Regions from separate parts of the Homo sapiens genome. Here region 2 is linked to region 1. A link means that fine-mapping ties the variant in region 1 to the expression of a gene that starts in the linked region. Tissue or cell type: whole blood. Region 1 holds a variant in brackets; the other region holds the start of a gene. All regions are shown on one strand. Distances are between the middles of the regions.

Region 1 (8,057 bases):
GCCCGGCAGAGGCAGAGACACACGCGGAGAGGAGGAGAGGCTGAGGGAGGGAGGTGGAGAAGGACGGGAGAGGCAGAGAGAGGAGACACGCAGAGACACTCAGGAGGGGAGAGACACCGAGACGCAGAGACACTCAGGAGGGGAGAGACACCGAGACGCAGAGACACCCAGGCCGGGGAGCGCGAGGGAGCGAGGCACAGACCTGGCTCAGCGAGCGCGGGGGGCGAGCCCCGAGTCCCGAGAGCCTGGGGGCGCGCCCAGCCCGGGCGCCGACCCTCCTCCCGCTCCCGCGCCCTCCCCTCGGCGGGCACGGTATTTTTATCCGTGCGCGAACAGCCCTCCTCCTCCTCTCGCCGCACAGCCCGCCGCCTGCGCGGGGGAGCCCAGCACAGACCGCCGCCGGGACCCCGAGTCGCGCACCCCAGCCCCACCGCCCACCCCGCGCGCCATGGACCCCAAGGACCGCAAGAAGATCCAGTTCTCGGTGCCCGCGCCCCCTAGCCAGCTCGACCCCCGCCAGGTGGAGATGGTAAGGGGCCCGTGCCCCACCCCGGCAGCGTACCCGACACACCCCGCGGGGCTTCTTCGCCCTCCCAAGGCGCTGCCCCGGCCGGACTGGCCTGGGGGTGGGGGCGCAAGGAGAGCCGGGCTCTGCCTCGGTCAGGACGGGGCGCGGGGCCGCGTGTGAAGTTAGCTGGAGACTCGTGCAACTTTTCCCCGCGGCTTTGGTCCTGATCCCGGGGCAAGAGAGTTCCTGGCAGTGAGGCTGGGGGTGCGGGGGTGGGGGGACAGGCCGATTCCAGACCGCCCAGGAGTGGGGTGGGGGCGTCCTTTGGTCCCAGCACAGTCCCCAAAGGGTAGTCAGTCTCCTAGGCTACCACCGGGACCGCTCCGCCTGGCTCTGTCCCAGAGCTGGTCAGATGTGAGCAGCGGTGGACACTGACCTTGTCACCCAGGGCAGGAGTATGAGGCTGCCACCGGGTGAATCCACTACCCTGCCCCTCTCTAATCCCGCGTGTGTGCCTGGGCTGGGGTCTCCAGAACCTGGCTCTGGCCTCCTGCTGTCAGGCCCCAGAGCCCCAACCCCAAGGAGGGAGAGGTGGGGAGTCATCACAAAGCCAGACCTCTTCCCACAGACTACTGAGTCCTCCTGAGGGCCTTCTTGGGGGTTGAGGGGCTTCCAAAGGCTGGCGGGTGCTGTGACAGAGAGCTCCACTTCCCATCCCTAGTGGAGCAGGGGTCACTTGTTGCTGAGCTGAGATGCAGCTGGCTCCCCACTGAGCAGTGATGAGGGGGCCAAGTCATTATGGGGGGAGATAGAGGGCAGGGGGTACAGTCCTGGGCCTAAGCAGCTTTGGGTCATGAGGGTGTCATGGGGAGCTTGGCTGGGGAGGTGGCAGTTTCAGCTTAACTCACCTGGTTCTCTTTGTGCATTTCCCTGGAGCTCAACAGGGACCTAATTAACTGACAGTTGGTCTGATTGCCAAGCTGAGGGGCGGGGCGGGGAGGGGGGCGGTCAGTTGCTGCTTGGCTCACGTAGCAAGGAGGGCAACTTTTCATTTCTCACAAGGACTGGGTGAAGAGTTCTGCAGCCTTACAGAGACTGGAAAAGAAGCCCAAACCAAGGCCCCCAGAGAGGTCCCCCAGGCCCCTTTGGGTCCCTGAGCCTCAGCTGGAGGTGGGGGGTGCCTGCAGTGCGCTGGCTCAGTCTCCTTCTGAAAAGCTGGATCCAGCTTGTTTGAAGCCCTTGAGCTGATCTTAGGTGGGCAGGGCCACATGGGTGCCATGGCCCGTGGGGCATCTTCCCCAGAGGGCCCAGCCGTGGCAGCTGGAGCTGTAGCCAGCTTTGGCTTCCGAGGTCTGATGTTTTCAGAAACTGGAGAGAGGAAGGGCCTTGGTGGGAGAAGATAGGAAGGGAGATGTCTGTTCTGGAGTAGCCATGGAGTGGGACAGGCATGGGCTGGGAGTCAGTGACTGGGGTTTTTCTCGTCCTTTGGACTTGTTGTGCTGTGTGGCCTTAAGCACATTGCCAAATCTCTCTGAGCCCTGCTTTTTCACCTCTGTAAAATGAGGGGGTTAGGTGAGCTACAGAGTTCCTTTTGGCTCTGACAGACTTTGATTCAAAGGTTCCCTGGGGACTCCAAAGCACTGTTTGTTCCCTGCTGCCTGGGGGTGGGGGAGGGCTGCAGGTGTCCATCCAGTCACCCCTCCCTCCATCTCCTTAGATCCGGCGCAGGAGACCAACGCCTGCCATGCTGTTCCGGCTCTCAGAGCACTCCTCACCAGGTAGGCCCCTCCCTGCCCACTTAGCCCTGGCCCCACCCTAGCTCTGATGCCTTCCTAGGGGCCCTGCCAAAGTCCCATGAACAGGAGTCAAAGCTGGAGACTGGGGAGTGGATAAGGTCTGGGAACCCAACTCTATTGGCTTTATTTATTGACATGACACCTCCCAGCCGCAGGAGGGAGAGGGCACACTTTCCCTGTCCCCAGAGATTGAGACCCTGGGGAAAATAACTCGGATTCTTTCTCTCTCTCCCTCTTCTCTTTTCCTCCTCGCTTGGTTCTGGTTCGGTTGGCTTTGGTGGCCTTCCTCAGAGGAGGAAGCCTCCCCCCACCAGGTGAGTTTCCTGGGGCAGCTGGAAGGAGGGATGCCTGGGCCCCTTGGGGTGGGGTGGACGGGTGCCTGCAGTGACAACCAACCAGTATGGGGTGCCACCCAAGAGGACACATTAGCATATCAATGGGCAGTCCTCTGAGAGTGCCTCATGCCAGGGTGCCACCAGCAGATCCTCCTCTGCTCAGACTCAGGGTGGAACCTCCTGGACCTAGAGTCCTGCCCTGAACCAGGCCATGGCTTATGGGGGGCCCCCCCTAAAGCCACAGGGTGGGGAGGCTCAGCCTAGGTGCAGGACCCATTAGCAGTGGCTAAATCAGTCTGCTTGGGTGGCCATGGGTGGGATGGAATGGAGGGATGGTGAAGGCAAGGGCCTCTGCTGAGCCCCTTTAACCTGGCACTTCCCCTGGCAGAGAGCCTCAGGAGAGGGGCACCATCTCAAGTCGAAGAGACCCAACCCCTGTGCCTACACACCACCTTCGCTGAAAGGTACTATACCCCCACCGACCTTCCTGGCTGTCCGCCTGATCCCTGGAACTGGGCAGACGCTAGGGGAGCTTTTGTCAGTGGGGAGGGATTGTTTCGCCACACATAGCCCGCTGTCAGCGTGGCGCAACAACCCAACGTAAAGACCAATTTTTTCTCAGTCTGGCCTTGCAAAACACAGGAGTCCCGAGGCTGCAATGGGCAGCTATGGGCCTTAACATCGGGTTGTGGGCTTGAAAGAAAAGAGATGGCTGGCCTAAGACAACCAGCAGGCATCCGCGTGGAAGGGACTCCACCTGCAGCTCCTCTTCACCAGCCTGTGGTGGACCACCTCCCACCCCTGCTCATCCAGGGCGCCTTCTCCTGTGGGCTTCACCCCTGGCCTCCCCTCCCATTTGCATCCCATTTGCACAGATCTGCACACTGGTCTCCTCTTTCCTGCTTCCCTTTCTCCATGGAAAAGCAAGCCATTCCTTTTGCACACTTACTCAACACCTAGTATATGCCAGGCCAAGTTGGTGGGCATTGGGCAGAATAAGATGAGTCAGATTTGGTCCCTGCCCCCTTGGGGCTCTTTGCCTCAAAGGGTCAGGGAGGGGCCAAGTAAGGTGGCTCACACCTGAAATCCCAGCACTTTGGGAGGCCAAGGCGGGAGGACTGCTTGAGCCTAGGAGTTCGAGACCAGCTTGGGCAATACAGTGAGACCCCCATCTCTATGAAAAATTTACAAAGTGAGCTAAGCGGGCCGGGCGC[A/G]GTGACTCACGCCTGTAATCCCAGCACTTTGGGAGGCCGAGGCGGGCAGATCACCTGAGGTCAGGAGTTTGAGACCAGCCTGACCAACATGGAGAAATCCTGTCTCTATTAAAAATACAAAATTAGCCAGGCGTGGTAGCGCATGCCTGTCATCTCAGCTACTCAGGAGGCTGAGGCAGGAGAATCACTTGAACCCGGGAGGCAGAGGTTGTGGTGAGCTGAGATCGCACCATTGCACTCCAGTCTGGGCAAAAAGAGCAAAACTCTGTCTCAAGAAAAAAAAAAAAGTGAGCTAAGCATAGAGGTGCACACCTATAGTCCCAGATACTTGGGAGGCTAAGGCACAAGGATTGCTTGAGCCCAGAAGTTTGAGGCTGCAGTGAGCTATGATCGCACCACTGTGCTCCAGTCTGGGCTACAGAGTGAGAGCCTGTCTCGGGAAAAAATAAAAAAAGAAAAGGGTCAAGGAAGGTACACAAAGATGTTTAAGCTTGGATTTGAAGGATCATAGGAATTTAACAGGCAGGCAAGGGCATCCCAGGTCCAAGAAGAGGGAAGAAGGTGTGCAAAGAGAAAGAGATGCGAGTCAGAGGGGGACTTCTGGGCCAACCTGGAGGAGGCTTCGTTTCTAGTCAGGGAGCTGGGGAGATATACCTGAAGGACATAGGAGGGCCTCTTCCTGACTAAGCCCTGTTGCCTACCAACCCCCCACCTCAACTCCTGCCTGGGGCTCTTCCTGCCCGGCCAGCCCCCTCCGCTCCTGCGGAGGTTGGGAGGGAGAGCTACCGGAAGAGTATGCTGGGAAGTGGTTCGGGGGAGGGTTTAATAAGTTCCCAGCACCAGCCAAGGTCAACAGGTATACCTGTCAGCCCACTTGCCAGGGTTGGGAACAGAGAGGAGAGGCTGGGAAGGGAGGAGAGAAGGGAAGGGGTTATTTTGCTTTCCCCAGGACAGGAAAATGAAGGGTCAGAGCTGCAGCAAGTGGGCAGTGTGGCTCAGCACCTGGAAGGACCTCCCCACCTAGAGGGGTGTGTGGAAGGGCCCCAAAGCAGGCATGAGGGACAGAGTGTCATCTTCTCAGGAGAGAATTTAAGAAATCCCTCTCCCTCCCACCTTGGGCTGGGTAGGGAGAGGCTGGGTGGATGTGAGGGGAAGACCTGGCTCTTGACTGCAAGCATGGGCGAACAGGCCAGGATGAAGATGTTAGGGCCAGGGTGCTACCATGCACCGTGCAGTGGTCAAAATTGTGCACCCCCTCAACTGCCCCTTTAGGCCACATCTTAGGAGAGTCCAGGTGAGTAGAGGCAGGGAAGAGGAAAGGGATCAGGAGAGGGGTGGCCAGTCTGGGGCAAGGCTGGGGACCTTCCAACTGAAGAAGGAAGACTTGTGGTGGGGGGAGTTTGGGGCCCCACAGAGTGGGGCAGAGAAGGAGACAGCCTGGAAGGAGTGATGGGGAGACCCCAGAGAGCCCAGGAGGCATGAGGGAGGTGGGGGAAGCGAGGGAGGCTCACGGGGCACCAGCGCAAGCACCGCACACACCTTCTGTTGTCACTGTGGCTCACGAAGTGAACTCTCCTCCCCCGCTGGGGGAGAAGGAAGCTGCCTGGGCTGCCACCTGCTCTCCTGCCTTACCTCCCCCCACAGCCCTCATGGATCCTTCTCTACCAGGAGGGCACTGTTTTGTAGGCTTCAGTCCTTTTGTGGGCAAGGGAAGGTGCCCGGCAGGGTTGGGGCTTGTCAGGGAAGAATCGAGGGCCCTAGAGAGAGGGGCACAGCACTAAGTCTTAGCTTGAGGGGTTGTGCTCCAAGGCTGGAGCTCTCACACTTGGCTCAAGATGAAGCTCTGCCGCGTCCCCAAGGTCAGGGTAGGGTGATTTATTGTGCTTTTATTGCCTGGATAGCTTGCCCAGAGCCAGCAGGAGGTACTGGGCTGGGAGCTGGGGGCTGGGTGGGGCAGCGGGCACATACAAAGCACCCTCTGTGCCTGTCCCCGAGTTGGCAGGAGCATAGCACCCTGCTCACTGTGCCGGAGGTTTCCAGCCTGGCCCTACCCCTCTGGGCCTTCTGAGGGGAGGGGCCACTGGCAGACCAAGAAGGAACTGCAGCAACTCCCCATTCCCCACCCCCAGCCCCTCCTCAGCATCTTGTCTGTGGCCTGTGAACTTTGTGTCGCATATGTTCTAAGATCCTGCCAGCTCCTGCAGCCTCTCCTCAGTGGCCCCTCAACCTCTGCCATCCCCCAGAACCCCTGGCCTTGGCCCCTTTCTCTAACCCCTTGCTCCTTTCCATCTTTTGGAAACTTGTCTCCAGCTGCCCACACTGTTCCCTTCCCAGCCCTATCTGAGCAGGTCTTTGGAGGCTGGGGGGGTTGCTTTCTAGGTCACCGCAGAGGGAGCTGGGAACCTGGGGATGTGGGTCAAGATTGTGGGGGCCGCATCTGAGCATGCCGCATCCCCCGGCACAGACTGCACTGGCTGCAGACTATTATGTCCTCAGCCTCGGAATTGTTCTGTCCCTTGGAGCCCGGGGCAGGAGTATGTGGATTGGCATCTATGACTGGGCAGTGCCAGGGAGTGGGGACTATGCATCGCATGGGAGGTAGGATCAGGGTAAGCAGTGAGCCCTCAGCAGGCTGGGCACCCCCAAGAAATGGAAAGTGGCAAATCCCCAGGCCCTGGTTCCTACGCCCTGTGCCTTCTGCCTGGGCTTGAAGCTGGGAGACACTGTCTCCCGTACTGGGTACTTGGAAAATCAAGCTCTCCAGCCAGGGAATGTTAAGCTGCTGCTGTGCCCGCCTGGTCTTGCCCAGCCTAGTGCCCTATGGTGTGGGGGAGCTGCCTGGGGGCTAGCATCTTAGGACAGCTTAAGAGCCAAACATGATCAAATCTACCCCTGGCTGCCTCTGCCCTGGTCTGACACCCATCAGGCTGACCTGTCAACTTTGGCCTTTGAACTTGGGCCCCTGAGGGGGTATTCTCTGCCCCAGGCCTACGGGAAGGAGGCTGGGGGCTAGGCCACAGGCTATCTCCAGATCCATGGGCTGTGTCTAGCTGACCCTTGCTTTCCTCGGTCTCCTCTGTGCCAGCTGTGCAGCGCATTGCTGAGTCTCACCTGCAGTCTATCAGCAATTTGAATGAGAACCAGGCCTCAGAGGAGGAGGATGAGCTGGGGGAGCTTCGGGAGCTGGGTTATCCAAGAGAGGAAGATGAGGAGGAAGAGGAGGATGATGAAGAAGAGGAAGAAGAAGAGGACAGCCAGGCTGAAGTCCTGAAGGTCATCAGGCAGTCTGGTAAGCTGAGGGGCCTGTGACATGTGGATTAGCTGTGGGTCCTCCTTGAGTATACGAGGACGTCCCCTTCTAGTTCAGTGTCTCATACACGCAAACTGTAGTGACACCACAGGGGCCTCCCTGTCTTCTCGCTCCATGGGGTGCCCCGAACTCAGCCCTACCTGAGACATGGGTTTCCTCCATCCTTGGCTCAGTCCCTCTCCCAATCAGGTTTTCCCTAATAATTCCTCTCTTCCCTGAGAATTAAGGCCAAGGCCGTTTGGGGTTTGAGGCTAGAGCCAAAAGAGGACTTCCCACCTATGGCAGTAAGGGGGCGTGAGGACATTCAGGGATGGAGGACCAGGAGAGTCCAACACCCCTGTCACCTGCATTTCACCTACATTTTTGAACCTAGGATGTGGTCTCTGCTGGGGTGCAGAGGGCTGCCTCATTTACTTGCCCTCTCCAGGACTGTTGTCTGTTTCTCCTCTTTTTCCTTCCTAGGATGGAGTGGGAGGGTGCCCTCTAGTGTTTAGATGTAGAATTTAAAATTCAAGAACCAGCCCGGCCCATTAACCTTTTTAGTCTCATTATTTATGGGAATACTGAAGAGTCAACCACCCCTACTAGAAGCTGTCAGCTCTTCCACACAAACAAAAGGCCTTGGGCCTCCTGCCTGCATATCTGGCAGTGAAGAGATTGGCCATGGGGGCAAAAGCTGTTGCTGGGCTTCAGTCCCTTTGTGGGCAAGAGACAGCTGGAAGACCTGAATCAGTCCTCACTGAGACCCCTCCAAAACAGTGGAAGAGGGGTGAGAGGAGACTGTTCCCTCAGGAAAAGCAGCAGGTGGCTGGGTGCGGTGGCTCATGCCTGTAATTCCAGCACTTTGGGATGCCAAGGCTAGCGGATCACTTGAGGTCTGGAGTTCAAGACCAG
Region 2 (8,049 bases), 57 kb after region 1:
AGAAAAATGCCCTTCTTTCCTCTCTCCTTCCCAAACAGCCTGACCTAGGGCTCTGCTGGAAAGGTAAGGCCCGATTCAGCACCCTCCCTGTTTTCTCCCCAGGCTTTACCACCCTGCAGCTGCAACTTTAGCCCTGGGAAACAGAGGGGAAGCTGGTAAGTAGAAGCCCTGTTGGGTGTTAATAGGGATGTAGAGCTCCACCTTCCTAGATAAGAGGAGACAGCAGGAGTCCTGCTAGGTTACCTACCCAGGCGAAGGCCACACAGGTGTGGTACATGGGGGAGGAGGCTGGCACGAAGGTGCGGTAGCGGCAGAGCATCACCAGGCTGGCCAGGCCATTGAGAAACGAGGCCACGGCCGATGCCGGCTCTTGAAAGAACAGGAACCGGGAGAAGGGCCACTGAAAAAGGAGCAGATGAAGGAGGTTTGAAGGGCAGGCAACCCTCAACTGGCCCAGTCCACCTATTCTTGACATGCTGAAGCAACAGGTCCTCAGCTGAGTCCTCAGCTCTGGAGTTTGGCCAAAGCCTCAGGTTCAGTACCTCTTCAGACTAATGAGCCACCCTCCAGTGCCTAGTTAAGAGTTATACCCCCATCCTGGCCAGCAGGCACAGCACTGTAAGCCCTGATCTCTGGGAAGACCAGATGGGTCAGGGTAGATGACTCAGTATGGCCTGGTGGAAACAGCACAGAGTTGCCATCCAGAAGACACAGGTCCCAACCCCTCCTCTACCACTGACCACGGTCCTTTGAGCCTCAGCTTACTCTGTGAAAAACTGGGGTGAATACTTCCTGCCAACCTCAACAGGCCAGAATGAGATAATACTGGATTGAAACGTACCAGCAGGCCAGGCGCGGTGGCTCACGCCTGTAATCCCAGCACTTTGGGAAGCTGAGGCGAGAGGGTCACAAGGTCAGGAGATTGAGACCATCCTGGCTAACATGGTGAAACCCCATCTCTACTTAAAAAAAAAAAAAAAAAAATACAAAAAATTAGCTGGGTGTGGTGGCACACACCTGTAGTCCCAGCTACTTGGGAGGCTCAGGCATGAGAATTGCTTGAACCTGGGAGGTAGAGGTTGCAGTGAGCCAAGATCATGCCACTGCACTCCAGCCTGGGCGACAGAGGGAGACTCCATCTCAAAAAAAAAAACAAAAAACAAAAAACAAAAGAAAGAAAGGTACCAGCAAACTGTGCCTCGCTAGACAAGCTGAAGCATATTACTGTGAATCCAGACCCCTACTGGAGAAGCAACAGGAAACAAGCCACAGTAGGTAAGGGAATTTGTCCCTGCAGTAAGGTGGGCATCTCAACCACTCTAAGAGGCCCAGCACCACTCTCTGGGGAGACTCCAAAGCCTTCCAGATATTGCTACTCCAAATCCAGAGGCAGGACACATGGGTCCTATCCAATTCTATGGAAACCAGCAGATTTTGGGGAGAACAGGTAGCTGCCCCAAACACACACGCATTACCCCATGCCTCAGACTGCTTGGACAGTGTGGTCCAACCAGGGGGTATATTACTCCTACCACGCTACTACCATATGCCTACCCTGACCCTCCAACTCACCTTGCCATGGAACTGAGGCACTTTGTGACCTTCCTGGAGGTAGAGCCCAACGGTGACCCACATACACTCATACTTACAGTCGTCCCGACAGGTCCAGCCTGAAACAGACAAATGTGGCCTGGTGAACTCCCCAGCACAGAGAGGAAAGAGAGAGCATGAATGGGGTCCAAGCGCAAATGTAGGCCAAGAGGGCCTGTAAGTTGGAGAGAACCAGGAGAAATCTCAAAATTCTAGCTTCCCCTTTGAATGAATGAGAGATGATGAGATGTACACATAGGGGAAGGTGTATGTACGTATGTATGCATATTTTAGTGAGCAATTAGAGATATTCGTCTTTTTTTTGTTTGTTTTTTTGAGACAGTTTTGTTTTTGTTGCCCAGGCTGGAGTGCAATGGTGCGATCTCGGTTCACTGCAACCTCCGCCTCCTGGGTTCAAGCGATTCTCCTGCCTCAGGCTCCCGAGTAGCTGGGATTACAGGCATGCACCACCACACCCAACTAATTTTGTATTTTTAGTAGAGATGGGGTTTCTCCATGTTGGTCAGGGTGGTCTTGAACTCCCAACCTCAGGTTATCTGCCTGCCTCTGCCACCTAAAGTGCGGGGATTGCAGGCACGAGCCACCGCACCCGGCATTTTTTTTTTTTTTTTTTTTTTGAGACAGGGTCTCGCTCTTTCATCCAGGCTGGAGTGCAGTGGGGAGAGCATGGCTCACCACAGCCTTGACCTCCTGGGCTCAAACGATCCTCCCACCTCAGCCTCCCAAGTAGCGAGACCACAATGTCTGGCTAATTCTTTTATTTTTTGTAGAGAAGGCATCTTGTCATGTTGCCTAGGCTAGTCTTGAACTCCAGGGCTCAGATGATCTTTCTACCTTGGCAGACATTTCCTCTCCTTTTGCTCAAGTCCATCAAGATGTTGGCATCTGATGAACTCATCTATGGAAACCTGGGTTTATATTTGTCCTTCCTGAATATAGGATTTGCTCTTACTCTCCTGGAAGGAGTTCTTGCTATCTTACTCCCTTCCTATGAAAATGAAGCCCAAATTCTTCAACCTGACTTTTGAGGCTCCAAATTGCCTTTCCAACCGTATTGGTCACTACTCCTGTTCATGTACCCTGCTCCCTGAGTAAATAAAGCTCCTGGATGTGCCCACATCTGCCCAGGGCATCCATTCTCTCTGTTCCCTCTGTCTGGAATGCAAAGTGGTATAATAGTAAAGAGGACAAGCTTGTGGTCAAACAGGCCAGAACTGGAAACTCCACTTTACTACATACTGGCTGTGTGACCTTGGGCAGGGCATTTAATCTCTCTAATCCCCATCTGTAAAACTGGGATTAGAGAAACTATCTCAAAGGGTGTGATAAAAATTACTTGACATATTGTGACACCTGTCACACAGTGAGTGCTCAATACGTTGGTTCTTTGCCCACTATGGTCCAAATCGAATGTACCAGTCCAAAGTCCCTCCTTCAAACAAAACGTTCCAAGATGATCCCTGCCCCCACGTCTTCAAAGCCGGAACTGACACCTTCCTATCCCAAATGCTTCCTAATCAAAGAGTCTTTCAGGGGCTCAAATCATTCTCTGCCTTGCACTTGAAAAGGCTCATGTCCCCGTGGGGACTGTGAGTCCCAATGGGCGGGACCCTGGTCTGATTTCTGTGCCATTCCTAGACATTGTGGCCCGAATGTATTTAATAAATACCCTTTTGACTGAACAAATAAGTAAATGAAAGCTTCTGGGAAAGTAAGAGAGGCTGGTAAGGCTCTCATCACCTTAGGGGCTTCACTCACATTCATAAGAGACCTCGTGGGGAAACTAAGGTTCAGGGATTGCAGAGGCGTATTGGGGGCGCAGGGGGCGGGAGCAAGACAAATGGGCGGGGCTTACCGTGGGGGTGGGGCTTACCTGCTAGACTCATGTAGATTGGCTGGCGGGAGCGGAAGTGATTCAGAGCGCCCCCAGAGCAGTTCTGCTCTTCGCACTGCAGTACGCAGTCGCGGTACACCGGCTCACGGTCGCCCTGGGAGCCGCTCGCCAGCGCCGCTGCCCCAGCTAGCAGGACCAACCGCGCCGCCAGGCCGGCCATCCTTTCTCCCTGGCTCGCCGCCGGGGGAGGAGCTTAGGAGTATGAAGCTTCCACTTCCGGAGTAACCGGAAGTTCCTGTGTTCTTTATTCTACTCTCCGCTGAAGTCCACACAGTTTAAATTAAAGTTCCCGGATTTTTGTGGGCGCCTGCCCCGCCCCTCGTCCCCCTGCTGTGTCCATATATCGAGGCGATAGGGTTAAGGGAAGGCGGACGCCTGATGGGTTAATGAGCAAACTGAAGTGTTTTCCATGATCTTTTTTGAGGTAGGGCTGTTTACTGTCACCACCCCTGTCGGATTTTACTTCCTAAACGTACCTGTAACTATCCACTTCTCTCCATCTCTTCTGGCACCACCCTGGTTAAAGACACCATCATGTGTCGCCAAGACAGCCGCAGTAGCTTCTTAATGGCTCTCCCTGCCTCTACTTTTGCCTCTTCCAACCTGCGCTCCATTTTGAAAAATTAAAATTTGCCCATATCACTTTTTTTTTCTTAAAATTATTTACTGGCTCCCAATTACCTTGGGTAAAATACAGTCTCCACAAACCCTGCCTGATTTGGCCCCTGTCCACTGGTCTCCCTCACTCCCTTGCTCCAGACCCGCTTCAGAGGGCTATGTCCCTCAAGCTTCCTGACTGCCTGGCCTGGTCTGAATCACTCACTCTTCTTTTTTCTTCTAGTCGCAATTGAAGTACCACCTCCCGAGGGTGATTGCTTCCCCATGCGGGGTAGAACCTTTGCTGTCCTGTTCACCACTCTACCTCCAGCACAGAATTTGGCTTATGGTAGGCGCTAACTGCGTTTGTTTGTTCTTCTGTTTAATGAATGAACAGCATACATCAACATAAGAACTTGACAAATCCAGGGCTGTAAAATCATCAGTATGGTTCTGCACTGAGATCGGAGAGAAGTAATATTTCTAGGAAAATTAGGAACCCTGGGAACAGGACGCTTGCTTTAGTATCCTCTCCCTGCTCACCTCCCCTGCACTCCCATCAGCACCGACCCACACCCAATCTCATAGAAGCCTTGTAGCTAAGGATCACCCTTTCTCCTCCCCCACTCTCCTCACCCCTTGTCAACTTTTCTTTTTCGTCCTGGGGGTTGGAATGAGTAAGAAGTAGCCTGGGATTCCATTCACTCACTTAACAAACATTTCTGAGTCCTTAGCTCTAGCACCTTGCTAAGCAAGGCAAAATCTCCAGGAGGCACCATTCACATTGCATTTTCTGTGAATGGTGCTCTGGGGAGCAGCATTCACATTGCCTTTTCTGTGAATGGCAAATTCTTCCAGTTAAATATAACATGAATAGTGTCCCCTGGAGTTGACCACCCAACTGATACTGACTGAGAAGCTGAAATGAACAAAACAACCCCTTAGCCCTCCAGGAGCTGACCGGAAATCCAGTGCTAATACTACTTTGCATCTTACAGATTAGTTCTTTTACAATACTGTTTTTTTTTCTTTTTTCATTTCATTTTGTCCTTTCTGTGACTCTGGGATGAGTCTTTTTATGAGGATCCTCATATAAAGATGGACATTTAGGATTAAAGAGGATGAAATCCTGACAAAATAGGGAGTCTCCCCTTTAGAAAATTCCTAAGTAAGGCTGGGGGTGGTGGCTCACGCCTGTAATCCCAGCACTTTGGGAGGCCGAGGCGGACGGATCACCTGAGGTTAGGAGTTTGAGACCAGCCTGACCAACATGGAGAAACCCCATCTCTACTAAAAATACAAAATTAGTTGGGTGTGGTGGTGCATGCCTGTAATCCCAGCTACTCAGGAGGCTGAGGCAGGAGAATCGCTTGAACCCAGGGAGGCAGAGGTTGTGGTGAGCCAAGATTGCGCCATCGCACTCCAGCCTGGGCAACAAGAGCGAAACTCAAAAAAAAAAAAAAAAAGAAAAAGAAAATTCCAATTTTGAAGGCCTCATCCTATATTATGTCAAACATACTGAAATGCAGTAACGCCCCACATTAAATAAGATTTATAAATAACTATACATATATATAATTCAATCTAATTGCTGTTAATAGTTGACATATTGCTACATTTATATACATTTAGTTAAAAAAAATTTTTTTTCCCAGACAGCCTCTCACTCTTTCACCTAGACTGAAGTGCAGTGGCATGATCACGACTCACTGCAACCTCAACCTCCCAGACTCAAGTGATCCTTCCATCTCAGCCTCCTGAGTAGCTGGGACTGCAGCATGCGCCACTATGCCCTGCTAATTTTTTTAATTTTTTGTAGAGACACGGTCTTGCTATGTTGCCTAGACTGGTCTCCAATTCCTGGGCTCGAGTGATCCTCCCGCCTCAACCTCCCAAAGTGCTGGGATTACGGGCGTGAGCCATGCCACACGGCCATAAAATATTAATTTTCGCAGCTTTCTTATATTTTAGAACTAACAATGGAAATTTGTTCGGGTCTAAAGTATTTCAGAGGTCCTTGAAAACCCATGCCTACATACCTGATGGAAAAAGCAATCCTAGGTTAATGGTGGAAGTGGGAGTAGAGACTTCTGTTCTGTTGACTTCTTGGAAGATGGGGTACTGTCTCTCTGGGACAGCTCTTGAGAATTTCCCTGCCAGCACAGCCCCAGATAACAATCTCTAGATGGCGATTACCTGGCCTCTCTTCCCAACTTTCTAGCCTGGAGCCCCTAGTTCTCCCCTGAGCCTCCTTAGCTTGTCCTTCTTCCTAACTTGTATTTGGCTTCAGATGTGATCCACAGTCTGAAAAGTCACTAATTCATTCCTTCAACTCAGGCTTATTGAGTCCTCCTGTGTATCAGCCATTGTACTCATGGGGGAAAAAAAAGACAAAGCATATGTTAATAGTAGAGTGTGCTGGACAGGCACAGTGGCTCATGCCTGTAATCCCAGCACTTTGGGAGGGCGAGGCAGGTGGATCATCTGAGGTCAGGAGTTCGAGACCAGCCTGACCTAACATGGAGAAACTCCTGAGATCGTGCCATTGCACTCCAGCCTGGGCAACAAGAGCAAAACTCCGTTTCAAAAAAAAAAAAAAAAGTATAGTGTGCTAAAGGCTCAACGGCAAGCTGACCATGTTCTTAGATCAAAATTGGTAGAGAGTCTACAATGTGGGTTCCTTATTCATCAAATGTTTATTAAGTTTACCATGTGCAAGTCTCTGGGAACAGAGTGATGAACAAGGCACTGTACTTTTCATGGTCAGAGGAGGGAAACAGGCCATAAACAAGTGTCAAACAAAAGACTGAAGCCAGGTGCGGTGGCTCACATCTGTAATCCCAGCACTGTGGGAGGCCAAGGCAGGCGGATCATGAGATCAGGAGATCGAGACCATCCTAGCCAACATGGTGAAACCCCATCTCTACTAAAAATACAAAAAAATTAGCTGGGCATGGTGGCACGTGCCTGTAATCCCAGCTACTCCGGAAGCTGAGGCAGGAGAATTGCTTGAACCAGGGAGTTGGAGGTTGCAGTGAGCCTGGATTATGCCACTGCACTCCAGCCTGGTGACAGAGCGAGACTCCATCTACATTAAAAAAAAAAATATATATATATATATATACACACACACACACACACACACACACATACCCTCTAACCCAGGAATTTCACTCCTAGGTATACCTACATAAGCTCCAGTATACCTAAACAAGTGCAAATTTGTTTAAGTACAGTTATTTGTGGTAGCATTAGTCATTGTTTTCAATAGCAAGAAGAAAAAGGAAACAACTAAATGTCCATCAATAGGGAATGAATTATATTAATGGAGGGAGAGCCATACAATGGAAGGCTGAACAGAAATTAATAGGAATGGGGCAGATTTGTAATGTACTAGCATGGTAAAACCTTCATGATAGATATAGATATAGATATAGATATAGATATAGATATATATACATATACATATACATATACATATACATATATATATATATATATATATATCTCTTGTGTCTCAGCCTCCCGAGTAGCTGGGATTACAGGTGTGTGCCACCACATCCGGCTAATTTTTGTATTTTTTAGTAGAGACAGGGCTTCACCATGTTGGTAAGGCTGTCTTGAACTCCCGACCTCAGGTGATCCACCTGTCTCAGCCTCCCAAAGTGCTGGGATTATAGGCATGAGCCATCACACCTGGCCAAATATTTTTGATAAGTATCAAGTGCACAGTGCAGAACAAAATATGTGTGTGTGTATGCATGTGTATGTACACCTATACACTTATATACAGTACCCCATGTGAAGAAAAATAAGGGTACGTGTTATGCGCGTAGTATTATGGTTGTTATTTTTGAGAATATATCTAGAAAGATAAAAAAGAAAGTGGAAATAGTTCTTGCCTCTGGTGGGAAGTGGGACTATGTGCCTGATCAATAGGGAAGTAA

What was found. PIP is the estimated chance that this variant, and not a neighbour inherited with it, causes the effect.
Region 2: PGAP3 starts here. The variant in region 1 is fine-mapped to the expression of PGAP3 in whole blood (TOPMed, PIP 0.92).

Annotation. Positions count from the first base shown.
Region 1 is chr17:39,626,945-39,635,001 of GRCh38, forward strand. PPP1R1B (protein phosphatase 1 regulatory inhibitor subunit 1B) reads left to right here and starts at 8. Exons shown (of 7, transcript NM_032192.4): 1 at 8-529; 2 at 2,226-2,286; 3 at 2,596-2,618; 4 at 3,028-3,103; 5 at 6,939-7,142. The coding sequence starts at 449. It overlaps LOC124903998 (a long non-coding RNA gene), which reads right to left. Exons shown (of 2, transcript XR_007065749.1): 2 at 7,694-8,057. RefSeq lists enhancers at 4,418-5,337, 5,338-6,257. The variant A/G (reference allele first, on the strand shown) is at 3,854.
Region 2 is chr17:39,684,350-39,692,398 of GRCh38, forward strand. It overlaps PGAP3 (post-GPI attachment to proteins phospholipase 3), which reads right to left and starts at 3,708. Exons shown (of 8, transcript NM_033419.5): 1 at 3,485-3,708; 2 at 1,573-1,670; 3 at 248-400. The coding sequence starts at 3,665. It also overlaps a transcript of ERBB2 not described here. RefSeq lists enhancers at 3,727-3,836, 4,547-5,507 and a silencer at 4,787-5,081.